Linked DNA regions of Homo sapiens. The protein of the gene in region 1 interacts with the protein of each later gene in a pairwise test. Each region holds a gene or a part of one and is shown in the gene's direction. Other genes may lie near its edges.

Region 1 (7,902 bases):
CACCCTGTCTGAAGAAAGTCCTCCTTGCCAAGTGAAATGCTTACCAAGCAACTGGCCACTGCACTTTGCAGCTCATTTTGAAGTAGCCAATGCAGTAACATTGTTTGCGTCTGTTTTTTGCTGCACTTCTCCTTTCCTCACCACTCTGAGCTTGGTCCCTCTTCTAGAAACACCTTTCCCCACCTTCTTCAATCCTACTCATCCTCTACAACTCAGCTTAATCTCATGTCTTCTGACATCTCAACCCCCTACACATACACACACACACACACACACACACACACACACACACACACAGGCTAAATTAGGGGGCCTCTGAGGGGGGTTCCCGTAGCACCAGCCTACACCACTAACTCACTACAAGCTTTAGTAAGTATCTGTTAGGAAAATGCTGCCAAAGCAATCAGACAAGGGAAAGAAATAAAGGGCATCCAAATTGGAAATCAAACTGGATGTCAAACTATTGCTGTTTGCCAATAATATGCTGGTACACCTAGAAAACCCTAAAGACTCAACCATAAAGATCCTAGATCTGATACATTCAGTAAAGTCTTAGGATACAAAATCCGTGTACACAAGTCAGTAATGCTGCTGTACACCAACAACGACCAACCTAAGAATCAAATCAATAACTCAATCCCTTTTACAACAGCTGCAAAAACAAACAAACAAACAAACAAAAAACTTAGGAATATATTTAACCAAGAAGGTTAAAGATCTCTACCAGGAAAACTACAAGGAACTCTACAAAGAAAACTCTATAAGGAACTCTACAAAGAAAACACTGCTGAAAGAAATCAGAGATGACACAAACAAATGGAAACACAGTCCATCCTCATGGATGGTAAGAATCAATATTGTGAAAATGACCATACTGCCCAAAGCAATCTACAGATTCAATGCAATTTCCAACAAAATACCTTCATCATTCTTCACAGAACTATAAAAAACAATCCTAAAATTCACATGGAACCAAAAAAGAGCCCATATAGCCAAAGCAATACTATGCAAAAAGAACAAATCTGGAGGCATCACATTATCCAACTTCGAATTAAACTACAAGGCTATAGTTATCAAAACTGCATGGTACTGGTATAAAAATAGGCATGTAGACCAATGGAACAGAATAGAGAACCCAGAAATAAAGCCAAATACATACAGCCAATTGATCTTTGACAAAGCATACAAAAACATACATTGGGGGGGCTGGATGTGGTGGCTCACGCCTGTAATCTCAGCACTTTGGGAGGCCAAGGCAGGCAGATGGCTTGAGCCCAGGAGTTCGAGACCAGCCTGGGCAACATGGCAAAACCCCATCTCTACAAAAAGTACAAAAATTAGCCATGTGTGGTGGCGCATGCCTGTAGTCCCAACTACTTGGGAGACTAAGGTGAGAAGATCACTTGAGCCCGGGAGGTTGAGGCTGCAGTGAGCCGAGATCGTGCCACTGCATTACAGCCTTGGTGACAGAGTGAGACCCTGTTTCAAAAAATAAACAAATAAATAGATTGGGGAAGGACACCCTATTCAATAAATGGTGCTGAGTAAACTGGCAAGCCACATGTAGAAGAATGAAACTGGTTCCCCATCTCTCTCCTTATACAAAAATCAACTCAAGATGTATTAAAGACTTAAATCTCAGGGCTGAAACCATAAAAATTCTAGAAGATAACATCCAAAAAACTCTTCTGGACATTGGCTTAGGCAAAGAATTCATGACTAAGACCCCAAAAGCAAATGCAACAAGAACAAAAATAAATAGATGGGGAACTAATTAAACTAAAAAGCTTCTGCATAGCAAAAAAAAGTAATCAGCAGAGTAAACAGACAATCCACAGAGTGGGAGAAAACATTCTCAAGCTGTGCATCCAACAACACCCAGTGCCCAGAATCTCAAGGAACTCAAACAAATCAGGAAGAAAAAAACAAATAGGCCAGGCATGATGGCTCATGCCTGTAATCCCAGCAATTTGGGAGGTCAAAGCGGGTGGATCACCTGAGGTCAGGAGTTCCAGACCAGCCTGACCAACATGGAGAAACCCCATCTCTACTAAAAATACAAAATTAGCCAGGCATGGTGGCGCATGCCTGTAATCCCAGCTACTCAGGAAGCTGAGGCAGGAGAATCTGTTGAACCTGAGAGGCGGAGGTGCAGTGAGCCGAGATTATGCCATTGCACTCCAGCATGGGCAACAAGAGCGAAACTCCATCTAAAAAAATAATAAAAATAAAAATAAAAATAAAAAAATAATAATCCCATCAAAAAGTGAGCAAAGGACATGAATAGACATTTCTCAAAAGAAAGTATACAAACAGCCAACAAACATATGAAAAAATGCTCAACACCACAATCATCAGGGAAATGCAAATTAAAATCACAATGAGATACCACCTTATTTCTGCAAGAATGGCCATAATTAAAAAGTCAAAAAACAATAGATGTGGTGAGGTGCGGTGGCTTATGCCTGTGATCCCAGCACTTTGGGAGCCTGAGGCAGGGGGATCACCTGAGGTCAGGAGTTCGAGACCAGCCTGGCCAACATGGTGAAACCCCATTATTTTCTACTAAAAATACAAAAATTAGCCAGGCATGGTTGGTGCTCACCTGTAGTCCCAGCTACAAGGGAGGTTGAGGCAGGAGAATCACTTGAACCTGGGAGGCAGAGGTTGCAGTGAGCCGAGATAGCGCCATTGCACTCCAGCCTGGGTGACAGAGTGAGACTTCATCTCAAACACGGACACACACACACACACAGACACACAAATAGATGTTGGCATGGATGTGGTGAAAAGGGAACAGTTTTACATTGCTAGTGGGAATGTAAATTAGTAAAACCACTATGAAAAACAGTATGGAGATTCCTTAAAAAAACAAAAGTAGAAATACCATTATTTCCAGCAATCCCACTACTGGGTGTCTATTCAAAGGAAAAGAAGTCATTCTATTAAAAAGACACATGCACACGCATGTTTATAGCAGCACAGTTTGCAATTGCAAAGATATGAAACCAACCTAAGTGCCCATCAACCAATGAGTGGATAAAGAAAATGTGGTATATCTGCATCATGGAATACTACTCAGCCAAAAAAAGAACGAAATAATGTCTTTTGCAGTATCTTGGTTGGAGCTGGAGGCCATTATTCTAAGTGGAGTAACTCAGGAATGGAAAATCAAATATCGTATGTTCTCACTTATTAGTGGGAGCTAAGCTATGAGGACACAAAGGCATGAGAGTGATATAAGGGAATTTGGGGACTTGGGGGGAAGGTTGGGTGAGGAATAAAAGGTTACATATTGGGGACAGTGTACACTGCTTGGGTGCCAGGTGCATTAAAATCTCAGAAATCACCACTAGGTAACTTATCCATGTAGCCAAAACCCAACCGTACCCCAAAAATTATTAAAAATTTAGAGCATGTTTTTAAAAGCAAAAAAACAGTACACAATTTTTTAAAAAACAGTAAGTCTTGGCAAGTCCATCTCCCCCATCTGACATCTTGAAACAAAGTTTTTTTTTTCCTCTCTGGGTTCTCAGTACCAAGAACAGTGCATAGCACATAGTCATGAACCTTTGGCCTAAATCACAGTGAAATTAGTGAAAGGAAGTCTACCTTCTAGTCCCAGCACTCACACCAACTTCTCAGACACTGAAAGACCCTGGCCAAGGCACTCCTCTGAGCTTCTGGTAAATGGGGATAATGTTCCTGTCCCCTTCTTAGTTTGTGAAGATAAATTCAGAGAGAAATGGGATTGGTCCTTTGGTATGGTGGGAAGTCTAAGCACATTGAAAGTTTAAGACATTAACACTGGCCAGTGCAGTGGCTCACGCCTGTAATCCCAACACTTTGGGAGGCCGAGGTGGGTGGATCACTTGACGCCAGGAGTTCAAGACCAGCCTGGCCAACACGGTGAAACCCTGTCTCTACTAAAAATACAAAAATTAGCCAGGCATGGTGGTACAAGCCTGTAATCCCAGCTACTCGGGAGGCTGAGGCACAAGAATCCCTTGAACCTGGGAGGCGGAAGTTGCAGTGAGCTGAGATTGTGCCACTGCAGTCCAGCCTGGGTGACAGAGCTAGACTCTGTCTCAAAAAAAAAAAAAAAAAAGATGTCAACACTGATGTTATTAATGACAACTGCTGATAGTGTTGATACTAATGATGACCTGCTTAGCTGGAGGAATTCTCTTTCCTTCCTCCAATATTGCCTGGTTTTGCCCTAACTCAGCTCCATTATCTGCTGAATGATGGAAGCCAGGCCCCCTCCTCTCTAACCCCTTGTCTTATAGATTTCTTTATTATTATTACTATTATTATTATTATTTTAAAAATAGTGATGGGCTCTCACTATGTTACCCAGGGCTGATCATGAACTCCTGGGCTCAAGCGATTCTCTCGCCTGAGCCTCCCAAAGTACTGGGATTACAAGCATGAGCCACCATGCCCAGACTCATAGATTTCACATGTCCTCAAAAAGTCCTTCCAGAAGTCTGACCCACATCCTTCCTGTTGCAGCCCTGCCCCCTCCCTTCCTCATGTCTCCTCAAAGCATGATCCATAAGCACCTTGTGTGGCTTATCCTTGAGGTTGACATCCCCATTCCCACTGCTCAGAACAGGCCAAGAGGCAGAGTGGGAGATTTTCCAGAGAGAAAGAAATAGAAGCCAAGAGAGATGAGAGAGAGAGAGAGAGAGAGAGAGAGAAAGGGAAGTTCTAGTTTGGGGTGAGGGGGCAGAGAAAGAATCTGGAGGGATGAAGGTCAGGCAGCAGTAAGGGCTTCCTAACACCTAAACACAGAGTGACACAGATACCCCCCACCGCTATACCACCGCTATCTACAGCTGCGTGGCTTCCGGGGGTGGGACAATCGTCTTAAGGCTTTCCATGACGTGAGTCCTCGCCAGAACTAAGGCTGTGGGTAAGGCGACATTTCCTGCCCCCGGGGCCAGGGTGAGAGGAGAGATGATGAGTTGCTGAGTGTGCACACCTTTCCGGAACACATACACACACCCTGCTCTGGGATCCCTTGTGAGGCTGCCCTCATGGAGTTCCCCCTGGCCCAGATATGTCCCCAAGGTAAGTGTGAAGTTGAAGGATATGGGTGGGAGGGGGCACAAAGACCCCCATCCCCCTGCCCTCCCTCCTGGGCTTGAGCTCCCACTTCAGGGATGAGGGGCCCCACCCTAAGCCAGAGCTGGCAAAGCTGATTGGCAGGGTGACCACAACCCTGCCTGGGGCTCCATGCCCACTCATCCCTGAGGATAAAGGTGACAGGGTTTGTTGAGGGCTTCTCAGAGAGGAGAGAGGAGGGAGCAGGAGGATGAAGGGAGAAGGAGGCAGAAGATCCTGGACCAGAAGAAGGGCCTGCCCTGAAGTGATCTGCCTCCCTGACCATCCGAAGGCCAGCCTGACTCCCAGCCTCTCCTTCTAGGCACCTGGTGTCCCTCACAACCTCCTCTGGCAGCATTAGCCCCCCATGCCGCCTTGGCTACTTAACCTCATGCCTGAGAAACTCCCCTGCTGCCCTTCTGCGTTTTTCCTGTCGTTAAGACTGTCCCAGCCCTCCAGATCCCCTGAGCCTGGGAGGAGGGGTGGGAGGCAGAGACAGACATAGTTCCTCTCTGAGAAACCCCGGCAGCCCTCTTTGTGCTCACAGGGAGTCACGAAGCCCCCATCCCAACCTTCAGCACCTTCCAGATCACAGACATGACCCGCAGGAGCTGCCAGAACCTGGGCTACACTGCGGTGAGTGGAAACCTGGGGCGGCAGCGTGGTGCAGCTCCCTCATCTCTCCCACCCTCCCATGGGGAAGGACTTGCAGATGGACAAAGGCCACTCCAAGAGAAGGCAGGAATGATCCGGGTCTGCCAACGGGCTGGGGCACAGAGAGAGAGAACGAAAATGAGGAGTACCTCCTTCATGCGCCGAGTTGCCCACTCACTCCCTTACTGCTCCTAGGCCCTCTGGAAGCTCAGGCTGAGTCCGCAGATGACCAGGGTGCAGTGCATTGAGTCCCAGAAGCAGGCATCTGCACTCTGTGTCAGTGACCATTTGCCCAGTGCATTCCACATTCCCGTCTCAGTCCTTCTCTCCTGCCCAGTCAATAATTTTCCCTGCGAACTAGGTCAGTCCCTCATATTATGAAGTAAGCCCTCCCTCATTCTGGCCTCTAGGGTGACTTCCTGCATCATGTTTCTTCATCCTCCAGGCCAGGGAATGACTCTGTCCATCTGGAAGGCTGTGCTGCCTTTCCCGCCCCTCCTAGAGCACAGTGTGACAGCTCACTGCTGCTGGATTAAAAGCCCTCAGGACCCAGAGGGCAAAGGAAGGAGAGTCTCTGGAAGCCAGAACAGCTGGAGCTGAAGAAGGGATTTAAGTTAGACTTTAGGAAGGACTTTCTGGGCAATTGTACCCTAAAATAGACAGGAGAGGCTGGGTATGAGGAAAAGAAGGTGGCAGGTGGATCAAAGTCAGGAGAAGGCCCACTCATCATGCTGCTTCCCCCTCCTTGAACTCTTCCCTGATCCAGGCATCTCCCCAGGCCCCGGAGGCTGCCTCCAACACAGGGAATGCTGAGAGGGCAGAGGAGGTGCCTGGAGAAGGAAGCCTGTTCCTGCAGGCCGAGACCCGGGCTTGGTTCCAGAAGACCCAGGCCCACTGGCTCCTGCAGCACGGGGCAGCCCCTGCCTGGTTCCATGGCTTCATCACCCGGAGGTGAGTCATGGAGGAGGAAATTGGCCCAGACAGGGGCAGGGCAAGTCCTGGGTCTGGGTCCTGCCACCTGCCAGGAATAGATGAAGGCTCCCACTTCTACCAGTCTGGAGTAGATGGAGGCGCCCACTCCAGGCTCCCACTCCCAGAGTTTTCCTAGCCTTTCACTGAGGCATCTCTCCAGGGGAGATCATTGGAGAGGCTCCAGTCCAGCCCTCTGTGTACCTCAGCTTCCCCTCTCTAGGCCCCATTATCCTCCTGTCCCTAAGGCCTCGAATGCTGGTATTTTCCACCTCTCTCTCCCTCCAGGCTTACTCCATCTTTATCTCCCAGCCCTCTCTTCTTCCACCCTTGCAGAATCTCCCTCCTCCATTTCTCAGCCTCATTTCTCCCTAACTCTTTGTTCACCTCCTCAGTTCAGCTTTGACTTCTGAAATCTGGAAGTCCAACTACTTTCCCATCCCTGTAGCTGCAGTAGCAGCCCCTGCAGGCTGCCCTTTCAGGATGAGGCCAGGGGAGGATGCGGGGGTCTCCTGAATGGGACCCCTGGCCCCTGTCCACGCCTAATCCCTGCAGCGGGAGAGCAGCGCCCACGTGCTCTCTCTCCCCATCTCCGCCCTAGCCTTTCTCTAGCCGCTCCAGCATGCTTGCTTGGGGGTAGGGGTTCCTCGTGAGAGCCGGGGAGACAGAGGCGAGGCTGGAAGTGTCAGAGCAGGGTTCGGCCCCCTCTCTCCGTCACCCACAGGGAGGCAGAGAGGCTGCTGGAGCCCAAGCCTCAGGGGTGCTACTTGGTGCGGTTCAGCGAGAGCGCGGTGACCTTCGTGCTGACTTACAGGTGAGGGGCGAGGCCCCGCGCCGGGCGACACAAGGCGGGGCTCGGGAGGGGCGGGGCTTGGGTCTGATCCCGTGAGGAGCCGGGCTCTTAGCTCATTCCCCGGGCTGCTGAAGGTGGGGATCACGCCTCTCGCTGGTGACCCTGGCCGAGGAGCGGGAGATAGTCTGATCCCTAACGGCGCCCTCCAGGAGCCGGACTTGCTGCCGCCACTTCCTGCTGGCCCAGCTCAGGGACGGGCGCCACGTGGTGCTGGGCGAGGACAGCGCCCACGCGCGGCTGCAGGACCTGCTGCTGCACTACACCGCGCACCCGCTCAGCCCCTACGGGGAGACGCTCACCGAGCCCCTCGCCCGACA
Region 2 (7,871 bases), on another chromosome or scaffold:
CCTCTTCCTAATATCAGTTTATATTTTGTGTTTTTGTAAACTGATCTTCAAAGTTCTGATTCTCAAGTCCTTCTCTGTCATTTTTGTGACCTGCTCTAAAGCTTTTTTTCTCCCTTTTTATATTGTTATGCCTTAGTTGTAATGTTTTAGCTAAAATGGAAAGGAATGTTCCAGATATGAGGCATATTTTTAATTTACTTGGTAGTATTATGTCTATGTTTATACTCTCTATTTTACATACTAATTTGAAATAGTAATTATGTGGTTTTAAAAACTTAATTTTCATATGCAATTTTAGCCTTTTCCCATTCCAGGTTTTAGCAGAGCTATTAATAGAAGCAGAGCTTGCTACTTTGAATTACATTTATAATTAATTGTTTTGTTTTTGGAAATAATAAAATGACACAAACAGAGACAAGAACAAAAATGAATTTATATAACCTACAAATAGATTTTTTATTATATACTATATATGTTTCATTTTGTCTCTTAGATAAATATCTGATATTTCTGGCAATTTAATGGCATTAGTAAGTAACGTATGGGTAGTTTTAATCTTTTTCTATGCATTCTGCTTGAACTTGTTCCAGCATTTTAATCATCCATGTAGAATGTATTCTTTTAATTATGTTTCTTATTATATGTAAAATCTTCTCTAAATAATATTAAATAAAGTATTTCCATTCATGTTCAATGATCTAATTTCCCTTTATAACTTTTATTTTTAAGTTAGGCAGAAGCATAAATTAAAAAAAACAACCTCAAGGAGCAGATATTCTTAATTCACAGCTTCACGTTATACATAAAATTATGTTTATAAAACAGAATTTTAAGGTTTATTGCATTTATAATATCATAACTTGTTATGCTGAAGCTTAAATTATGCTAAAGCTGTAGTTGTCTCCATTGGGAATGCATATTTGGTGGAAATTATGTGTAAATTTAATAAACCTTTAATATATCTGTATAGGCCATTAAAAATGTTTCATTAAAAAATCATTTAGTTTGTTTTTTTTCAGTCATTCAACACATAATGAGCACCTACTAGGTTCTAAGTACAGTACCTGCTAGGTACTGAGTATACAGTTGTGGATTAAAACCATTGCTCTTGTGAACTTTACCTGACCAGTGATTGAAAGACTTAAACAGCATCTGAGTCATATGGTTCAGAATAGGTAAAACGGAAGTTTTTCCTATCAGATAAAAGCATCTGAAATAAGAAAGTTAGGATAACCTCCAGTAGTTGAGCATATCCCAAAGCCATATACAATCTTTATGTTTTATTTTTTGGGCAAATGCAGAAATCAGTACCTCCCATAGATGGCCTTTCACTGTCCTTTTATAAGTTATGGGCCTTCATGGTTTTAAGATCAGTCCAGGAGAGCAGAAGCCTGAGGTCTAGGGCTAAGGTATGGGGATAACAAGACTGAGAATGCATTAAATGGCTCTGTACACCATTTGAAAACCTTAGGGTTGTGGGAAAGATTGGTGTCTGTTTGACAACATGAAAACTGGCTTTTCTTTTTATTTTCTTCATTGGCCTTCTATAATATTTGTAATTTCCTGCTCCTTTAAAGCACAATTTTAAAGTTAAGGATGGGGGAGATCTGTGAGTATGTATTATTGAAATCCCAATCTTAGTCACTTTAATGTATTTCAAGTGTTTAAGATTTTTTTTTATTTTGTAACTTTATAGTTTTAAAGCTTTATCATTTAATGTACATTAAATTAAAATTATGCTATAAATATACACTTTTTCTTCATTTGATTTACATATTATAATGCTTTTTTGTGTGCTATAGTGCAAACTTGGATGAGGAGGCACAGGCTGGTACCAGTTCACTACAGGTAATGTTGGATCACCATCCTGTTGCTATTACAGTGGAGGTGAAGCAAGAAGAAGACATTAAACCACCTCCTCCACTGGTTTTAAATTCTCAACAGAGTGATACTTTAGAGCAAAGAGAAGAACATGAATTAGTACATGTTATGGAAAGATCCTTGTCGCCTTCACTTTCCTCTGTTGATATGAGAATGACATCGTCTCCATCTTCTATTCCAAGGAGAGATGATTTTTTTCGGCATGAGAGTGGTGAACACTTTAGGTCACTATTAGGGTATGATCCTCAGATCCTGCAAATGTTGAAAGAGGAGCATCAGATAATTTTAGAAAATCAAAAAAATTTTGGATTGTATGTTCAGGAGAAGAGGGATGGATTGAAAAGAAGGCAGCAGCTAGAGGAAGAGCTACTAAGAGCAAAAATTGAAGTGGAGAAGCTGAAAGCAATTCGCTTACGGCATGATCTACCTGAATATAACAGTCTCTAAGTTTTTTTTTCAATCTTGCAATTTGATAATTTTGATTTTGGCCAAATTACTTTAATTTGGGAATATCCTGAAACAGAATACACGTTCTTGAAAAATGTTGTTAATCTCTATTATGGAAAAACTTTTTAGATATAATTTTCTAATTATTTTCTTTTGAGATATTAAAATTTACTGGTTGGTTGGCATGGTTATAGTTTTTATTGTCTTCTTTTTTTTTTCCCTAAGTTTAATTGTTGACCTTACAAAAGATATTTTATTCTGATCACTAAGATATACACAAATGCATATACAAACACATATTCTTTCAAAGTTCTGAGTCTTCAACATTTTTAGTTAGAACTTTGAAAGCTATAATTAGAGATTTTTAAGTCAGTCTAATTTAGGAGCTATACTAACCTAATACCAAGAAGCTTGTCTGTATGACATTGGTTTTTATGCTTTTATCTTTTGAAGGAGTAAATCCTAGGATTTTAGAGATGGAAGATATTTGGAGAACACTTTTTTTCCATCTCTGCAGTTTAGGGGTAATGAAACAGGTCCAGGGAGAACTCAATGACTTACTTAGGGTAACAAAGCTATTTATGGCAGAGCAGAGACCAGCACTTAGTTTTTCTTTGTGTAATTTCCATCCCGCTATTCGATAGAAGTAAATATCCACTAAAACATTCTCTAGATTTAAATATTAGAAGCATTTCTTTCATTAAAATTGCCTTTAAAGATTGTTAGGTTGTGAAATCAGGATAATTACATCAATTACCCCCATTCTCTCTCTATTTTTGTTCCAGCAAAATAGATAAGGTATTCCATTGAAGCTATTATATATTTTGGCTGTGTGATTTAAAGACATGTCTTAATTCATTTTGAATGTCCTGTTCTGGAAAAAATTTCTTTCACAGTAAAAATCAGAATGAACAAAATTAAAATTTTATGTATTTTATAAGTATTGTTATTTTAGTATTCATGGAAATAAAACCTCAATTCTTAAAGCATACATATTAAATTTATATTAAATCTCTAATATGTATGTTACTTAAGAATTTCTATTTTTGCTGGGGTTTTGTTGAGAAGGGATTTTTAAGCCAAGTTGTAGAATGGGGTGGGTGTAATTTCAGCAGTGAAGGGGACCATGGGTGTTTGAAGTCAAGAGTGAGACGCTGGAAAAAAGACAAAAGAATGGGAAAAAGTGGATTGAGTATATAAGCACAAATGCAGTGCTAAGCCATTGATTTTAAGTGAATGTAGAGAGAGTCAATTTGGGCTGTAGTATCCTGGACTAGGAAGGACATCTCCCTGGACTAGGTAGGGTAGCTGCTGTTTAGCTCCAGCAGAATTTTCACATGCGGGGATAAACCAGAAATCTGCATTTTTTAATGAGGAATCTTCCAATTTTAAAATGTTTGCAAATAACACAAAATGCTTTTAAAACATTATACAGACAACATGTGAGTGGGCCTCACTGAGCCATTGGGCTTCCACTTTGTGGCCTTTGGAGTAGACCAATGGTTTTCCAAGTATGGGTCCTGACCAGCAGCATCAGCATCACTTGAGAACTTGTTAGAAATGTAAATCCATTTCCAAGTGAATTAGAAACCCTGGGGGTGTCAGCAATCTCTTTTAATAAACCCTTTAGCGATTCTGATGCATGCTAAAGTTTGAGAACCAGTGAAACAGAGTATTTTGGAACCTCGCTTGGTGCCTAAATCATACTAGTCTCAAAATTTTTGTCGAAGAGTAGTTGAAAGTGAACTGAGGGATATAAATTTGGATGATGGTTGATACCAGATTATGAATTACATTAAATACTTTTTTTTTTTTTTTTTGAGATGGAGTCTTGCTTTGTCACCTAGGTTGGAGTGCAGTGGTGCGATGTTGGCTCACTGCAATCTCCGTTTCCTGGGTTCAAGCGATTCTCCTGCTTCAGCTTCCCAAGTAGCTGGGACTACAGGCGCACCACCATGCCTGGCTAATTTTTTGTGTTTTTAGTAGAGACGGGGTTTCACTGTGTTAGCCAGGATGGTCTTGATCTCCTGACCTCGTGATCTGCCCGCCTCGGCCTCCCAAAGTGCTGGGATTACAGGCTTGAGCCACCGTGCCCAGCCTAAATACTATTTTTAATGAGTCAGACTTAACGTACAATGAGAAGCCATTGAATGCTTTGAATTAGAGGGCTAATTTGATTATAGTTGTGATTTAGGAGGAGTGGCATTTAGGGACAGGCATTGTATTGGAAGAACTTAAATCAGAAATTTAAGTTATGGCTATAGAAATAGAAAAAAATGAACTCAAGGTACTATTTTAGCATGTTGACTACTTAATTTCATTGGTTGGATTAAAAAGAGGGTGTTTTATAGCTGGTAGAGTTAACTTCTTTAATTATAAAGATGTCCTGAATATATAACTTGATATATCCTTTTGACAATGTTACCTTTTCTCTTTAATCTGTGCTATGACTTTTCTTTGAGTCTAATGAATCTTGTAATTCTTAATTTGAGGTAATGTTTCCCAGTATAATTCTAGTAAACACATCTTGGCAGTAGTAAGCTTTATTTTTTGAAATTATTGAAAGCACATATATGAGATGTAATTCACTTTACAGTTTCAGCATGCTACTAAGAATTGATAATGAATGTTCAATTTAAATGTTGGCTTTTACAGCAAATCAGAGTTTTCCCAAGTGTGTTCTGTGGAACATTAATTCTGTGAGATGTTTCTAGAAAAGAGATCTGTGTTAAAAAAAAGTGCAGTATACATCTTTTTTATTTTTGGTGGTTAGGTTCTAAAATAATTGTGGAAGGTAAAAATTATGTATATACAAAATAGCCCTTGAAAATTCCTTTGCTGCCCATAAAATAGCATAAACATAGTCTGCTACAATCATATTTTTCTGCAGCATTGTTTAAGATTGCTTTTTCTTTAGTGTGTTAGGTGACACAATTCATTAGCATTTAGGGGCTGTATACAATAAGAAACCTATTTTTACATATTTTTAAACACCAGAATCACACTCTTTGAGTTTACTGCAGCAACTTTTCCAAGTCAATCTTGTTTTTCTCCAAGTCAGTCTTGTTTACTTTTAATTTGCAAAAGTTTAAATGCATATAATTCTCCTCATTGTCTACCTCCCCTTGTATAACCATGATTAACATAGTATAGTTTATGAGAATTCCTGTATAAAGAAAATTATTTATTTGACCATAGAATCCTTTTCCGAGGCTGTTTATTATCTTACAGAGTATCTTAGGGTAATTTGGAACCAAACCTTTTTTTTTCTTCTTTTTTGTATTGAGACTTTTTTGAGTTAGGGGACTACTTACCAACTAACATTAGCAGTTTTTGTTGAGGACAAGTTTCATTAAGGGGAATATATAGGGGAAAGTTTGCTAGTACAATGGAATGTACACTTGGCTTTCTATCTGCAGGTTTCACATCTGCAGATTGAACTACTGTGGATTGAAAATATTCAGGCAGAAAAATAAATAACAGTACAACAATAAAAAGTAATACGAAATTTAAAAAGACGGTATAACTGAGGTAGGAGTTGGGCTAATCCCCAGTTTTGGGGCTCACTTGTCCTGTATCCTAACAACTATTTACATAGTATTTACATTATATTAGCCATTGTAAGTAATCTAGAGATGATTTAAAGTATATGGAAGGATGTGTGTAAATTGTATGTGAATACAAACATTTTATATAAGGGACTTGAGTATCTGTGGATCTTGATGGGGTAGGGGGTGTCCTGAAACCAATCCCCCTTGGATACTGAGGGATGACTATACACTTAAGCCACCAGACATCTTGCATATCATAGACAATTGTTTGGGGTCCATGAGCTTTAATTACAAAATGTAATGCTGGGAGAACATAGAGAAGAGTGATTTTGTTTTTTAAATGTAGACTTGATTCTGTAGAAATATACTACATTTGATAAATATACTAAGTATATAGATTATTTCATCCAATATATTAGTAATTTAGATAGTGGATAGCCACTTTCCTATCTTTCTCTTATCCATATGAATGTAATGGATATGTTGTTACAACTTATGATTTTCTAAACTAGCTGTGATTTATAATGACATCCTGAGAAAAGTCAGTGAAACTCATTTCTAACGAATACCAGATTTCTTAAAATAGTCAAGTATTTTTCTTTTGTGTATGATGAGATATTAACTTGGTGTTATTTCATTTTTTTTTTTAAGGAGTCATTCTACCCTGTTCTATCTTTACTTATGTGAAAATGTTTAAACTATGAGTTTTTTTCATGTGCCTTCTTTTGGAGTAATGTCAACTTTTAAATACACATGTTTAAATAACTTAGAGTGTAATAAATTGTGTTTAATATATACTGTAGATAATGATGGTTAAATGCTTTGTTAACACATGTTCTTTTAAATACAAGATACTACTTTGTACTGATTTGTGTACTTTTTTTGTGTGCCGTTAAGACAAATAATTCAGTACTGTAGAGGTAAAATTTTTTGATGAGGTATAATTGAAATACATTTATTTAGATGATTATGTTATAATAGATGGCCAATGTACCATATCTAAATATCACATTTCATTTCTTTTTTCAAATGTTAAGAGCCACAGCTTCTCAAAATCAAATATTTGATGGTGAATTTGATTGTAAACACTTAAAAGTAATTAGATGAAATATGGTTGCATACTTAAACAAGAGTAAGTTCTTAGAATATGCAATCTAATTAAACATTAACAGTCAAGCAAAATCTTTGTATACGATTTTGAGAAATTGTTCAATATATTTTTATAAATCTTTTATATTGATTAAAGCTAGTAGTTATAATTTGAACATATTATTTATTTTTAGTTTCCAATTGCTTTGTAATAGTGGAAAGCAAAATAAATGAGTAAATAAAAATAAAAATAAAAATATCGCTCATATCAGTCCTGACAACTTAAACTAAAAGGATATATCATTATAATTCCACTTTGCTAGCAGGTCTTTTTTGTTTTAAAATTTATGTGTGAATTCACCTCTGTTACAAAGTTTTTTTTCCCCTAACATTAAGAAACCTTTCAAACATACAGAAAAAGTGAAAAGATAGTTATAGTAAGTATCCATATATCTACCACATAGATTCTGCAATTAATGTTTTGCTATACTTGGCTTCATCACCTATTTATCCATCAATTCTTTTTTTTAAAGGAAAAATGTTACTTCGAAACAAGTTGTAGAGTTAGAATAATTTACCCTTAAGTACTTCAGCATGAGTATTACTAGAGTTCACTATTTATTTGTGCATGTGTGTTTTTTAGGTAAGATTTGCATACAGTGAAATGCACAAATTTAAAATATACCATTTGGTGAGTTTTGATCTACAACTGTGTAGCTCAAACCTCTGTCAAGAATTAGAACAATATCACCTCAGAAAGTCCTCTCTTGCCTGCTTCTAATCAGTCTTCTTGCACGTCAGGCAACCATTGTCCTAATTTAAAAAAAATTATAGATAAGTTTTGCCTATTCTAGAACTTCATGTAATTGGAATCATACAATATGCATACTTTGTTTCTGTTTT
Region 3 (6,473 bases), about 130 Mb from region 1:
CTCTGCAAGAACAAGGGATACCCTGGAAGGAGGAGAAGTCCTTGCCCTGTCAGTATGGCTCAGATTGCCTCTTGGTGTCTGCTCTGTGCCAAGCCCTGTTTAGGAAACCAAGGGCACAGATGTGACTAGGACTCAGCCTCCATCCCTTCAGGTGCTCCTAGCCAGATGGGGGAGACTCCAGGTCAATAGAAGCTAACTTTACAATGCAATGGTGGTGCCATGTCCTTCTAGACCTGGGTCAGAGATAGCACAGAACAGGGAGCTGTCGGCGATGGTGAGGAAGGGCAGCAGAGACTTCAGAGCTGGGCTGGGAAGTTGGACTTCTGGATTCAGGCCCTGGACTGTTTGTTGTCAATTCTCTTTGCTGGGCTCAGTGTCCCCATCTGTTCAACTGGGATGGATAGATTAGGCTGCTGCTCTCCAACACCCTCTCTGGTTCCAGACTCCAAAGGGGACAGGTGCCTTCACCTGGTCTGTACAGCTGCCTCCACAGCGAAGAAAGTTTCTTGGAAGAAATCCACAGCTGGCAGCTTCTAAAGCTGTTGGGATGTGTGCAGGGATGGGGGCGGGGAGAGGGGGAGGGTGGTGTCGGTTGTTGCCTTGGGGCTTTTCACTGCTGCTGAGTTGTCCTATGGCTCAAAAATTGGAACCTTTCTCCCTCTACCCCCCTGCAAGGCTTTGCCTGTAGTGGCAATCTGAGTGGCTAGAGATTCTGTTCTTGCTTGTACCTGTACTAAAGGGACTCACCCTACTGTAAGGAGCCTTCCCAGAGCTACAGGCAGGGAGGCCTTTTATTGGTTGTGTAACCTTGGACAAGTCCTTTGCCTTCTCTGGGCCCAGAGGATTGAACTAGACAATCTGATTTCTCCAGCTGCAGCCAGAGGGCCTGCATCAGGCGGCAGAGCATGTGAGTTTTGTAAGCCTGCTGGCTGACGGCGTCTGTCAGTCTCCCTGCAGGTCTCAGCAGCAGCCTGGAGCAGAGTGGTTGTGGGGAGGGCCTTGGCATGGGAGAAAGGAGGGTGCAGCCACTGCCCCCTCCATGGCTGGAAAGTCTGATTCAGGAGGCACCAAGCTGCCCTGCAGTACTTGGGTGTGGTGGTATCTGGTGACCGTCTGCCAAACTGGCTGTAGTCACACCTGGGAAGGAGACAACAGCGACTGGCTGGCTGACACAGCTGGCCCCATGGCCCTGACGCAGGGGATTTAACAAGAGTACTGCTACCTACTCACTAGGCCAGATGCCAAGCCCTGGGGTGGGCACCAGCCTGGGAGCAGGAGCTGGCACTGAGTAAGGCTCAGTCAGCCCTAATGGGATCTGAGGAAGGGGCTGGTCTTCTCTGCAGGTTTGGTAGGGTCCTTGGACCAAGGTCTTTGGCCCATGCAGGCACAGCTGCCAGCTGACAGGGTGTGGGTTAGAAGTCCCACAGGCTGGACTGCAGCAACTGGCCTTGTCTGGCCAAGGCATCTCCCAACCCTCACCTTCCTGTTCCCCAACTATTCTGGCTCTGGGCTTCAGTAGCTTGAGGGTTGCCTTTGCTTTGAAATTTAGAAAGGGAAGGTGGATTAGAACACTAGTCTGCTCCTTCTGAACCCTGGGACTGTAATGTGGTAGAAACAGGATAGGCTTTGCTGTTGGCCATCCCTGGGTTTGAAGGCATCTCCACGTGATCTTGTGCAAGTGACATCACTCCTGTGAGCTTCAGTTTCCCAGGAGACCTGTCCTGGGCCAGGCACAGTGTCTCACGCCTGTAATCCCAGCACTTTGGGAGGCTGAGGCAGGGGAATAGCTTGAGTCCGGGAGTTCGAGACCAGCCTGGGCAATCTGGCAGGATTCCATCACTGTAAACAATAAAAAATTGCTGGGTGTGGTGGCACGCACGCACCTGTAGTCCCACCTACTTGGGAGGCTGAGGTTGCAGTGAGCTGAGATCGTGCCACTGCATTCACTGCATTCCACCCTCAGCTACAAAATCAGGACTCTCTCAAAAAAAAAAAAAAAAAAAAAAAAAAAAAAAGAAGGATGGAGGAAAGGAAGGTAGAGAAGGGTTTGGAAAGGCAGAAAAAAATTCCATATTAAAAAAAAAAAGACTTGGCCTGGCATAGTACCTCATGCCTGTAATCCCAGTACTTCGGGAAGCTGCGGCAGGTGGATCACCTGAGGTCAGGAGTTCAAGACCAGCTTGGCCAACATGGTGAAACCCTCTCTCTACTAAAAATACAAAAATTAGCTGAGTGTGGTGATGGGCGCCTGTAATCCCAACTATTCGGGAGGCTGAGGCAGAAGAATCACTTGAACCTGGGAGGCGGAGGTTGCAGTGAGCTGAGACTGCACCACTGCACTCCAGCCTGGATGACAGACTCAGACTCAAAAAAAAAAAGACACCTGTCCCCATAGATTCTGGCAACAAGGTCCAGTGCTCGGCACTCATTAGATGCCTAGCCTCCTTCTGCCACCCTCTGTGTTCCTGATGGCCAGCTGCTTACGCCCCATTCTCCGTGTTCCTTGTGGCCAGTTGCTTACCCTCCCATTGCCATGACAATATCTTCCCCTGGTAAAGTTGCTCCTCCCGGAAGTCTTCCTGGAGGGCGCCGCCCGCCTCTGATTGCCCCACCACAGCTTGCCTTCTCAGCACTTAGGTGCATTCTTTGTAGTAATTCCCTGGGAGGCAAGGAGAACAGCCTGGTCTGGAGCTGGGTGCTGACTTGGCAGCAAGGCAGGGTTGCAGAATCACTCAGGACAGGAATGCTGCCTGGTCACTTTCAGGACAACTTTGGGTTACTGAGAAAACTGAATGTCCCCAACCCCCAGCTTCACTCTTCTCCCTACCTGGTACCTCAGCGGAGGGACCACTTATAGGTTTATCTGTCCTGTGCCATCAGGCCTGGGGACTGTCTGAAGGCTGAGAGTTTTCACTGAGCCTTAGCTGTTTCACCACTGTAAGCCTCAGTTTCCTCATCCGAGAGCAAAAAAAGTATATAATTTTTGCCTCACTGGGTCCTTGTAAGGATGAGTTAGGATGAGTGCATTGTAGTCAAAAGGACATAGGTGAACTTGAGAATCCCAACTAACCTGGGTTCTGGTCTCAGCCTGACCGCTCTGTGACCTTGACTTTACCTCTCTGCACCTGAGGTCCTCCATCTATCAGTCAAAATAATACTCAAATGTAGGATTATGGGGAGGGTTAATGTGGTCATGAATGTGAACTGCTAACCATATTCCCAACACGTTTGAGCAGTTAGCACAGTGCCTGATACAGAACTGTTTTACTAGCAGTTTGAGAGGTAGAATAGCACGGTTAAGACTTAAACCACCGAGCGCGGTGGCTCACGCCTATAATCCCAGCACTTTGGGAGGTGTGTGGATCACGAGGTCAGGAGTTAAAGACCAGCCTGGCCAAGATGGTGAAACCCTGTCTCTACTAAAAATACAAAAATTAGCCGGGCACAGTGGCAGGCCCCTGTAATCCCAACTACTCGGGAGGCTGAGGCAGGAGAATCACTTGAACTCGGGGGACGGAGGTTGCAGTGAGTCGAGATCACGCCACTGCACTCCAACCTGAGTGGCAAAGTGAGACTCCATCTCAAAAAAAAAAAAAAAGACTTGGACTCGGAGTTTTATTCCCAGCTCTGCATTCACCAGCTGTTTGCCTTTGAGCTAGTTACTTGGCCCCTCTGTACTTCCATTTTTGCATCTGTAAAGTGTGAATAATAGTATCCACCTCACAGGGTTATTGTGAGGATTAAGTGACCTGCTGTTTAGTAAATTCTATGCAGATGTGTGCTATTATCATTGCTATTCTTCCTGAGTCATTCCTCCAGATGGGCCATTCTCAGATTAGGTTTAAAGAGTTAAATGACTCCCCCCCAACCCCCCCACCCCCACCCAATAAAAAAAAAAGTTAAATGATTTTCCAAAGGCATAACAGCTGGTTAGGGGCCAATAGTGGTTGAAGTTACCGTGATAAGTAAACGGAAGTCCTTGGTGGACCCCTGAGGCCCGCTCCTGACACCTCTCCTTCCTGCTCTCCCCTGCAGGTGGTCCGCAGCACCCTGGAGGAGCAGGGACTACATGTGCACAGTGTGCGGCTGCATGGTTCAGCTGCCAGCCACGTGCTGCACCCTGAGAGTGGCCTGGGCTACAAGGATCTGGACCTGGTGTTCCGGGTGGACCTGCGCAGTGAGGCATCCTTCCAGCTGACCAAGGCAGTGGTGCTGGCCTGCCTACTAGACTTCCTGCCGGCCGGTGTGAGCCGGGCCAAGATCACGCCACTGACACTCAAGGAGGCATACGTGCAGAAGCTGGTGAAAGTGTGCACAGACTCGGACCGCTGGAGCCTCATCTCACTGTCCAACAAGAGCGGCAAGAACGTGGAGCTCAAGTTTGTGGACTCGGTGAGACGCCAGTTTGAATTCAGCATAGACTCCTTCCAGATCATCCTGGACTCCCTGTTGCTCTTTGGCCAGTGCTCGTCCACTCCCATGTCTGAGGCCTTCCACCCAACGGTCACAGGCGAAAGCCTGTACGGGGACTTCACCGAGGCCCTGGAGCACCTGCGGCACCGTGTCATCGCCACGCGCAGTCCCGAGGAGATCCGAGGTGGTGGCCTCCTCAAGTACTGCCACCTCCTGGTGCGGGGCTTCCGGCCCCGGCCCAGCACCGATGTGCGCGCCCTGCAGCGCTACATGTGCTCCCGCTTCTTCATCGACTTTCCAGACCTGGTGGAGCAGCGGCGCACCCTAGAGCGCTACCTGGAGGCCCACTTCGGTGGGGCAGATGCAGCCCGCCGTTACGCCTGCCTGGTGACACTGCACCGGGTGGTCAACGAGAGCACCGTGTGCCTCATGAACCACGAGCGCCGCCAGACGCTGGACCTCATTGCCGCACTGGCGCTGCAGGCACTGGCTGAGCAGGGCCCAGCTGCCACTGCCGCCCTGGCCTGGCGCCCTCCAGGCACTGACGGGGTTGTGCCAGCCACTGTCAATTACTACGTGACCCCCGTGCAACCTCTCCTGGCTCACGCCTATCCCACCTGGCTGCCTTGTAACTGACTCAGACCCTGGCCAGAAGGGAAGGGACTGGGCCTCACGGGGTGGGGTGGGGCCTCCAAGAGTGTGTGGAGGACATGACCAGAGGCGCAGAATGTGCCAGGAGGCCCAGCACTGCAGGGTTGGGCCTTTGATTGAACAGACCAGACTTTCCCGAGCACGAGGCCCCTGTGGGCTTAATGCCAGCCTGGGGCTCTCAGCAGGAGGACCCTTTGGTTATTGCATCACACTTTTGGACCAGCATGCCGGTGGGGTGCAGGCGCCATTTGTCTTGGAAGTCAATTTCCTTCAGGAGACAAAGCAAGTTTGGGGTGGTAGCCTTAATGCCCAGCACCTTGGATTGATTCCCATGGTCTAAGAGGGTCTTTTTGACTAAGGCCAGCCTGTGGTGATCCCAGCAGCTTTGGAGGGCCTGCAGCCCACACACTGACTGATACATGGTATGTTACAGGGACTTGTCACTTTGGATCAGGCTGGGCCACTACAGGGCCTGATGGGCCAACTTGGGTAATCACTGGGAGGAGGGAAACTGAGGCCCGAGGCAGATACCTGGGTTTGGGGAGGGCTGGGTTTAGCCCGGTTCTCTGAACTACATACCCCCAGCTGTGAAGCCTTCCTCTTGAGGGGTTGAGGTGGGCAGTATACAGGAGCCAAGCAGCCCAGGGTGGGTCGCAGCCCAGGCCCCTTCCAGGGTGCCACTCCTTTCCCCCTTGTGTTGCAAGGAGCCCTCCTGCCTGGGAGCTTGTTCTTTGGAAGGTGCTGAGCCTGAATTTGCCACAGTCAAGTCAACGTTCCCACCCCACTGGCTTGGTTACAGGGCTCTCACATGGGGTAGGGGAGCCATACTCCCACCCCCTTGCGTATTCCCCTGGGTTTGTTGATATTTTGCACTCTTAACACCTGCCAATAAAGACGGTCTACACTGAACCTTAGTGCCATGCTTCCTCTGGGGAAAGAAGGACCTTCCGTAGCAGTGGGGGTTGCAGCTGCCTCCCCCAGTTGGAGTCTGGCTTGTACTGTGGAAGGGAGCATTTGCGGGGGCGGGGTTTGAAGCCTGGGCTATGGCTGGGGGACTGCCCCTCCTTCTCCCAACCCCAGCCGCAGCCTGACCAGCTGTATATTAAGAGCTGCTGTCTACATGTGTGACCTGCACGTTGCCTTAGCAGGTCTAGGGCTCTTGTTAAGGAGTAAATATTTTTATGTTTTCTACCTGGAATCCAAATAGCTCTGGGCCTAGACTCAGACTCTGGTGCTCAGGGGTACTTGTTCCCAGCTCTGTCTACCCCGTCTCTTCCAAGGGAGCAGCTAGAGAACAGGCTGGGTGAATCTGGACTGGAGGCCCCTCCAGTAAAGGTGGCTGAGACTGGGGAACTTGTAGGGTTCCCCCTAAGCCTGAGCCCAGGTAGGGCCTCTATTTGGGAGAGGCT
Region 4 (8,586 bases), on another chromosome or scaffold:
TCAGTTTGTATTTTTGTTATTGCTCTAGGTAACAATATAGACACATGTAATTTATCATAGTATACTGTTATCAGTGTTTTAGCACTTTGAATGAGGTGTATAGACCTTACTTTCTATAAAGTCCTTTTATTTCCCATACTTTAAAATATCATTTTCTTAAATATTCCTTCTACATACATTGAGTGCTATATCAGATAGTGTCATAAGTTTTCCTTCAATCATCAAATATGATTTAAGAAACTCATGAGAAGTAGAAAAGCCTATTATGTTTAATTATGTTTTTACCCATTTGATATTCTTCTTTTCCTTTTAAAATTCCAAGTTTTCTTTTATGAATACCTTTCTGCTTAGACAACTTCCTTTAGCCATTTTTCAAGGGTTGTGTATTTTTTTTTAGCAACAAATTCTTTGTTTTCCTTCATCTGAGAATGTCTTTATTTCACCCCATTCCTGAATAATTTTGCTACATGTGGAATGTGTGGTTGGCATGTTTTATTTCAGCACTTCCTTCTGGCCTTGTGGTTTCAGATAAGAAATCTGGCGTCATTTGATCTGGTTTTGCCCTGTAGTTAATGTGCCATTTGTCTGTTTTATTTTATGATTTTTTTTCAGAGATTTAATTATACTGTGTCTTGGTGTGGATTTATTTGGGCTTATACTATATGTGTTCACTTAGTTTCTTGAATCTGTAGGTGTATGTATTTCATTATTTCTTCGGAGCAAGACTTAGCCCTACTTCCCACCTCCTTATTCAGTCCTTTTTCCTGCTGAGTGTGTGTAGAGGTTCAGTTACCGCTGACACCAGGAGTCAAGGATGGTGGAGAACTGACTAGCTCTGAATCTCACTGCTTTATTCAGACTCATTGATACTAAATGTGAATGGAAGCTCAGCTTGTCACTGAGCCTTACTGAAATTGGCGAAGAGGAGGGGTGTGAAGCATAGTGGTGATGAGCCACTTCTCAAACCTTCTCCTTGCTGACCAGATGTGAGTGGAGGCTGAGTTTACTACTGGACCACACTGACACTACCCCTGCAAGGAGTATAACACCTACTTCTGCCATGGAGAGAATGGAAGACCAGCTCCCTACTTGGCCACACACTGAAACAGTCTGTGGTAGAGTGAGGTAGGGTAGTTTTTCTGTTGATGTTTAGCTGCAGTAGGATGGGTATTGCCAAAAAAAAAAAAATGCTTTTCTGCAATTAGGCCTCTGTTTTCCAGATCCTTTGCCTATGGACAACAGGCTATTGTTGGAGCTTTTATTATCTTTGCCTATTCATGGTTCTGGGTTAGAGCCTCCTGCAACTTTCTGGCCAATATATAAGGGACACAATAAAGACACCCAGGGAACTCACTACCCCGAATTTCCTCAAATTCTGTGGTCCTTTGTTCATCCAGCTTACTTTCAACTTTCAGAGACTTCTTAAAGTTGTGCTATGTCCAGAATTTTTTCAGTTTGAAGAGGGAGGACCTTGAAAGAATGGGTTTACTCTGTCTTGGCCAGAACTGGAAATCTCTTTTCTTCTATCTCCATGATTTAGACATTTATAATATCCACCCTCCACCACTACAAACAGAAGAGCACTGCATTATGACTTGGGGACAGTGTTAAGTTTCTAAGGGGTTTCCACTCTACTATCTGTGGTACCTCATCCCCCAGAGCATAGAAATCCCTCTCCTTTTGTAAGCCTTGGGTAATGGATATTATCGTGTTTCATGAAAAATAAGAGGAATATATAGCACATTTCTTTACTTTCCTAAGTCGAATGGCATTTGAGTTCAAGCTACACACACTTGGCTGGTAGAAAGGCCAATATCAGTAAAATTTCAAAAGTTCCTTCCTTTTTCTATGGGATCCTATTAGACTTGTGATGCTTACTTGGTCCCAGGAAAAATAAGTTGATTGTGGTCCTTAGTTCTTCTTGTTTGTTATGGATACCCTTACTGTTCATCTGCTGCAAGATGACATCAAGATGACCTACACTGGTCCTTCCTGCTCCTGTGGAGCAGTTCTTTTCAGCAGGACTTGACACTAATCACAAAATGAATCTCCAAACCCCTGACAGCTGGCTTAGTGTTTTTACTCCTAGTACCCAACTTCAACAGATGTTCCATAGTCATATCCCATCATCTGTGCTGCAAGGAAGTGAGGCGTATCAATCACTAGCAGAGTCTTTTACTCAATCCCTGGAATTTCTCCAGTCTCTGGGAAGTGAATAAGAACATGGAATATGGAATCAAGCTACTTGGGATGACTTAATAATTCATTTACTTTGGACAAAATCATAACCTCTCCAAGCCTCAATGTCCTCATATGGGGCTAATAATATTAGTGGTTACCACTATTATAAGGTTGGATTAAATGAGACAATATTTGTTCTTGTGTTACCAGTAGAGGGTCTTGACTGCAACTTGCCCAGGCTCTTGGCATTCTGAACAAATAATTGGACAAAACACATAGCAAAGCAAGGAAAGAATGAAGCAATGAAAGAACGAAAGCAGGGATTTATTGAAGATGAAAGTACATTCTACAGTGTGGGAGCGGGCCCCAGCAGCGACTCAAGGGCCCCGGATACAGAATCTCCTCGTGTCCAAATATGCTCTGGAGGTTTCCCAATGGCTACTTGGCACTCACCTCATGTAAATGAAGGGATGACCCACAATCAGTCTGATTAGTTGCAGAAAGTAACCAATCAGAGGCTGAAGTGAAGTTACATCGATACACTCCTATGCAAACATCTGACTGGTTGCAAAAAGCAACCAATCAGAGGTACTTTTAATTTCCCATCTGAGGACGCAGAAAAAGTGGGGGTATGTAAAGGGAGTAGCCTCTGGTCCTTTTGTTATTTAGGCGTGGAAAGTTAGGGTTTCTTTTCAGTTTAATTCCAGGAAGTCAGCGTGAAAGGGCCTTAGGTTCCCTGCCTCCAGACCCTATTCTCCTGCCTCACTTGCAGCAATGCCTGTTAATATAACAATATAGTAAAGGTGTAAGGCAATAGTAAAGAATAGTTAAGTTCTACATGCATAATAGGTACAATTTTCCTCCCTGGGCCACTCTTTGCTCTGACATCTACATCATCATAATCTTTTTAATTCCCAATTCTTGCACAATATTCACCTGGATAAGGCCCATTTTCAGGGTAACCCTGAAGTACATGAAGATATTTATCTCCTCCTACCTGCAACACATCCTGTTCCCACCTGAGTGAGAGGAGTGTAGACCAGTGTTTCTCAAATAATTGTCCACTGATCATTTGCATCAAATCTTTAGGGATAGAATCAAAGGATATGCACATCTATTAAGCTGCTCCTGAGATGTTAATGTACACTAAAATTCACGAAACAATCCTTTGCACTATCTGTGCCTTTTCACATATGGTTGCCTCTTTCTAAAATGTCCATTCATCCCATTTGTGTCCACGTGTGGAAACAAAATGCAGCTTCCTCTATGTACCTGTCCCTGATTTCATGTTCACTATTACCACCAGCAGATGCAGCCTTTCTATTGCTATAGGATGAATGATATGGGGAGGAATCAAAAGTGAGGTGCAAGGGAGTGTTGGGGTACACTGGAAGGCAGCTGCTGGATTGGAGTGGTGAGAAGGACCTATGGCTTTTACTTGGAATTTGTGCACTTGAGGCGAAGTTGCAAAAAGGGATGGGGGAAGGGGACAGAAAACCAGAAAAATAAAGAGGGGGTTGGGGAGAAGCAGCAACAAAATAACTCTTATGGTTTTCCCTGATCAGGAAGTAAATTAATCACCGCAGGTGTCAGCACCCCACACCCTCAGGCCGGCCTGCCCACTCGCCTGCTCTTCCCACTGCCTCAGCCCCTCCCGCTTGGCTTTCCTCGTGGATCTGTCCACACACTGACTTTGTTCTCACTGCCCTCTCTCCCCAATGTATCACTGTGTAACTGAAATCACTGGGTAACTGAGTATGCCCCGTTTGCGCCTGCCACCTGACTGGCTGCTCTGAAGCAGCAGAACTGGATAAGAACTTTATGAACTCTGAGAAGTTATTCATGCACAGAACCTCTAAACTTGCATCATTGTATCCACGTTGTTGCCTTCTTCTGGAACGTTATGTTCTCTGCACGTGAAAATCCTCTGCCTCTAGACCCTGTCCCAAGGTCCCAGGGACTCTGCTTGGGCGCCTCTGGGACTGACAACAGGGATATTAACTTTGCTTCTCAGGAGTGGGGAAGAGGTCCCCCTCTCAGGATCCTTCCACTCCCTCTCCTTAGGGCTCTGAGGCTCAAAGGAAGCAAACACCTCCAAAAAGCCCCTCAGGATTCCTCCCCCATTAGTACAGCCTACCATTTTCTCAAGGCTGCACCAAACCAAGTGTTCGCTGATATCACCATGGGCCAAATGTGGGTCCCAGGGATTTGCATTTGGATTGTACTCCTCAAGGGACTGTGGCAGTAGCTCAGAGACCTCAATTTGAGGAGGGAAAAAATATTTGTTTGAAACTGTTTAAGACATCAACTGAGGGGCTGAAACTTGAGGGGTTGCAGGTCTGACATATGGGTAAAGGTCTCCCTGCGCTGCCGAATCCCCCATCCCTTGCCAAGTTTAATGTCTAATCTTAGCGAAGGGTGTCCCAGGATTACACCAAGTGCACACTGGTTTCTCCAGACAGATCGTGGCCTGGGCTCCTTCTAGCCCCGTGCTTGACTATATCGTAGGTTTCAGATTTTATTGAAGTAGGGATTTTAAGAAGGGTAGTTAGCTGTTGTCCTGAGGGTAGCGAAATGCCGCGTGTCTGATACTTGGGATCCTGGCTTGCGGGCCCTCCTAGACTCTGCCCTTGCAGCTCCGCTACCCCCTCCCCTCCCTGTCCCTCCCAGCCTTCACCCCGCCCGGCCTCAGCTACTCCTCAGGCACCCCACGCGCTCACAACCGCCTGCCCGACCGCCTGCTCCTCCCACTGCCTCCGCCCCTCCCACTCGGCCCCCCGCGTCGATCTCGCCGCACGCTGACTTTGCTCTCACTGCCCGGCCAGACGCACTTCCCGCCTTCGCCTAGGTCTGCACCGCCACCGCCGCCCTCTCCCGCGCGTCCCTCACCCGGTCCGCCACTGCCGCGCCTCAGAATCCGAAGGCTCGGTTCCAGCGCAGCCATCCACGCCGCCGCCACGACCGACTCCGGAGCCACGCGCTGCAACCGCCACCAACGCCTTGCCGCCGCCGCTCGCCCGCCGCCCACCATGGCCCAGCAGCAAACAGGTAGCAGGAAACGGAAAGCGCCCGCGGTCGAGGCGGACGCCGAGAGCTCGCCGTCGCAGGGCTTGGCGGCAGCGGACGGTGAGGGGCCGCTGCTACTCAAGAGGCAGAGGCGGCCGGCGACGTATCGCTCGATGGCGCACTATCTGAAGGTTCGGGAGGTAGGCGGGTGGGGCCCCGCCAGGCTCCAGGGCTTCGATGGCGAGCTGCGGGGCTACGCGGTACAGAGGCTGCCCGAGCTGCTGACGGAGCGCCAACTGGAGCTGGGCACGGTCAACAAGGTGTTCGCGTCACAGTGGCTGAACTCCAGGCAGGTGGTGTGCGGCACCAAGTGTAACACGCTTTTCGTGGTGGACGTGGAGTCAGGCCACATCGCGCGCATTCCCCTCTTGCGGGACAGTGAGGCCAGGCTGGCCCAGGACCAACAGGGCTGCGGCATCCATGCCATCGAGCTGAATCCCTCCAAGACGCTTCTGGCCACCGGCGGCGAAAACCCCAACAGCCTGGCCATCTACCAGCTGCCCTCCCTGGATCCCCTGTGCCTGGGCGACCGCCATGGCCACAAGGACTGGATCTTCGCCGTCGCCTGGCTGAGTGACACCGTAGCCGTGAGCGGCTCCCGCGACGGCACTGTGGCGCTGTGGCGGATGGACCCGGACAAGTTCGATGACACTGTTGCCTGGCATAGCGAGGTGGGTCTCCCCGTATATGCCCACATCCGTCCGAGGGATGTGGAGGCCATCCCCAGGGCCATCATCAACCCCAGTAACCGCAAGGTGCGGGCCCTGGCCTGCGGCGGCAAGAACCAGGAACTGGGAGCGGTGTCCTTGGACGGCTACTTCCACCTGTGGAAAGCCGGGAGCGCACTATCCAGGCTGCTGTCCATCAGGCTGCCCTACTTCCGGGATAATGTGTGCCTGACCTACTGTGATGATATGTCTGTGTACGCCGTGGGCTCCCATTCCCACGTCTCTTTCCTGGATCTGCGCCAGGACCAGCAGAACATCCGGCCCCTGTGTTCTCGAGAGGGTGGCACAGGCGTGCGGTCGCTGAGCTTCTACCGCCACATCATCACTGTGGGCACCGGTCAGGGCTCCCTGCTCTTCTATGACGTCCGGGCCCAGAAATTCCTGGAGGAAAGAGCCTCCGCCACCCTGGAGTCCTCTTCGGGACCTGCAAGGAGGAAGCTCAGGCTTGCCTGTGGCAGAGGCTGGCTCAACCACAATGATTTCTGGGTGAATTACTTTGGTGGCATGGAAGTGTTTCCCAATGCGCTCTACACCCACTGCTACAACTGGCCTGAGATGAAGCTCTTTGTGGCTGGGGGGCCTCTCCCTGCAGGCCTCCATGGGAACTATGCAGGCCTCTGGAGCTAAGGATGACCGCCTTGTACTCCAGGTACACAGATTTACCTTTCAGTTCCGCCCGACTGCCCTTCATGCTGCATTTTTTTGCTTTTAACTCTGTGCGTCTTTTGTTTTCCAGGTGGAACCAGCCCAGCTTAATTTGTACTCCTCCAAGCAGAGAGAGTGAGTGGTCCTTTGGTCAATGAAAACTTGGCTTTAAGACTTTTTGACTCCTTTCCAACACCATCTTTTGGAATTTTCATACAAAGAAATTTGGTTAATCGTTAATCTTTAGTTGCATTCTCTCTTTGAGTGATTCATACATTCTGTTTCTTTAAGAAGATGCAGTCATGGTCTTTCAGTTATGTATATTTGTTTTCCTTGTTTTTCCTCGTTACCAATATTACAACAGCATTGTTTTCAGTTATTTTTCATTGCAGATACGAAGAGAAAATTTTCTAGTAAGCAAGGTGTTCCTACATCTTTTCTGGAGAGCTTACCATAGTTTTATAGCATTGTTCAATTGGAAAAGTACATTCCAAGTTCTAGATTACCTACGTTTGGAAACACTTAATTTACAAATTGTGATCTTAGTGTATATAGTTTTTACGTTGTTGGTGCTAAAGTGCTTTTTTGAAGTTTATTCTCTTTCAAAATAAGTTATCATAGAATCTTGTGCTTGTATCAAACTCCTAATTGGTCGGAACACTTTAGGAGTGCAGGGGTTCTGCTTCATTGCATTTTCAGAATTAACCTGAAAGTTGAAACAACCATTTTTTTTTATTTCAAAACTTATTTAAGTTGTTATCACCTGTCCTTAAATAGATAAAAGAATGTGTATTTTTTCACTTGTTGCCTTAGTACTATCAAGACTTGTGAATATATTTGAATGTATGTTGTTTGAAAAACTTGCACAGGGCATTGGAGCCATCATGAAAAGCAGGAAATGTAAACGTGGAATGTATGGCAGGCTGGGCAGAATGTATACTGATCCAGGGTATAGACTAGATATTTTTGCTGTTGCTGTTTTTATTATAAAATGTTATATTTGAGGATATTTAACATTTTCCAATTCTGCTTAAGAGGTAATTCACAATAAAAAAAACAAAGACCAAAAATAGCACATTCTGAAAAAAAGATTCTTAATAAGATTTTATTTTGTGAAGTTCAAAGATTCTTTCCTAAAGTATAACGTGTTGTTAAAAAGTAGTGGTGTTATAACTCTCAATGTAATAGTATGCAATATCAAGAACACAGGAAGTTCGTTTCAAGATAGGTGAGATTTAAAATAAATAGGATGAGGTTGAAGAAAAGTATATTGGAGCGCAGATAAATATAAATTGTGGACTGCTATGAAAACAGGTTGTACTTCTCCATATGTGAGACTACTGGAAGTGAGAAGCAATATTTGTCATTTCTAAAACTGGCCAGGCTGTGCTGACCCAGGATTAGTAATTTGTTATGTCTGTTTTCCCTTAGATGTTTGGGCACTCAGATGCTATCTTGGTGCACACACACAACATTGCTGTTCAGTCACAAATCCGAACAACTTAATATAATAAATTGTACTAAAAGTCATTTAAGAAATACCAAAAAGTAAGCTTTTGTTTCTAACCATTGTTATAAAGGCTAATATAATTGTTGTTATATAGCAGTAAGATATATTTGTGTGCATGCGTCTCCAAGTCAGTTGTAAATGTCTTGAGAACAGAGAATACAATTGTCATCTTTATATTGCCTCATTTCTCCACTAATACTTAGCAAATAAAAGGCAATAAGTAAATATGTACTGGTTGAATGCCTCTGGAGACCTAGAGTTTAAAGTTTTAAGTCAATAAATAAATAAATATTTACTCTTAAATAATATAGAATCCTGTTGTGTTTTCCCCCCTTTTTTGGTAAACTTTGCCCTGATTTATTTCCAGGTCAGGCTATTGTGCTTATCCATTCATAAACTTACCCATATGTGATACTAGCAGAGGAAAGAACATGTATAAATCTTAGTTGACACTGG

Evidence for each region.
Region 2: the proteins of SH2D2A (region 1) and FSBP interact in binary tests that used the Homo sapiens proteins (3 or more experiments, as listed by UniProt).
Region 3: the proteins of SH2D2A (region 1) and TENT5B interact in binary tests that used the Homo sapiens proteins (3 or more experiments, as listed by UniProt).
Region 4: the proteins of SH2D2A (region 1) and DCAF12L1 interact in binary tests that used the Homo sapiens proteins (3 or more experiments, as listed by UniProt).

What each region holds. Positions count from the first base shown.
Region 1 is NC_000001.11:156,813,849-156,821,750, reverse strand, and holds the start of SH2D2A (SH2 domain-containing protein 2A), read left to right. Parts: upstream 1-4,902; 5' UTR 4,903-5,042; coding exon 5,043-5,076; intron 5,077-5,293; exon of another isoform or gene 5,294-5,638; coding exon of another isoform or gene 5,639-5,656; coding exon 5,657-5,745; intron 5,746-5,912; coding exon of another isoform or gene 5,913-5,921; exon of another isoform or gene 5,922-6,001; intron 6,002-6,529; coding exon 6,530-6,714; intron 6,715-7,426; coding exon of another isoform or gene 7,427-7,456; coding exon 7,457-7,546; intron 7,547-7,734; coding exon 7,735-7,902. UniProt on the Homo sapiens protein: Could be a T-cell-specific adapter protein involved in the control of T-cell activation. May play a role in the CD4-p56-LCK-dependent signal transduction pathway. Could also play an important role in normal and pathological angiogenesis.
Region 2 is NC_000008.11:94,426,588-94,434,458, reverse strand, and holds the end of FSBP (fibrinogen silencer-binding protein), read left to right. Parts: intron 1-1,802; coding exon 1,803-2,328; 3' UTR 2,329-6,743; downstream 6,744-7,871. UniProt on the Homo sapiens protein: Transcriptional repressor that down-regulates the expression of the fibrinogen gamma chain. Represses transcription of GSK3B gene promoter via its interaction with APBA1.
Region 3 is NC_000001.11:27,004,520-27,010,992, reverse strand, and holds the end of TENT5B (terminal nucleotidyltransferase 5B), read left to right. Parts: intron 1-4,035; coding exon 4,036-5,049; 3' UTR 5,050-5,973; downstream 5,974-6,473. UniProt on the Homo sapiens protein: Catalyzes the transfer of one adenosine molecule from an ATP to an mRNA poly(A) tail bearing a 3'-OH terminal group in an ATP hydrolysis-dependent manner.
Region 4 is NC_000023.11:126,549,233-126,557,818, reverse strand, and holds DCAF12L1 (DDB1- and CUL4-associated factor 12-like protein 1), read left to right. Parts: upstream 1-5,004; 5' UTR 5,005-5,210; coding exon 5,211-6,602; 3' UTR 6,603-6,624; intron 6,625-6,711; 3' UTR 6,712-8,436; downstream 8,437-8,586.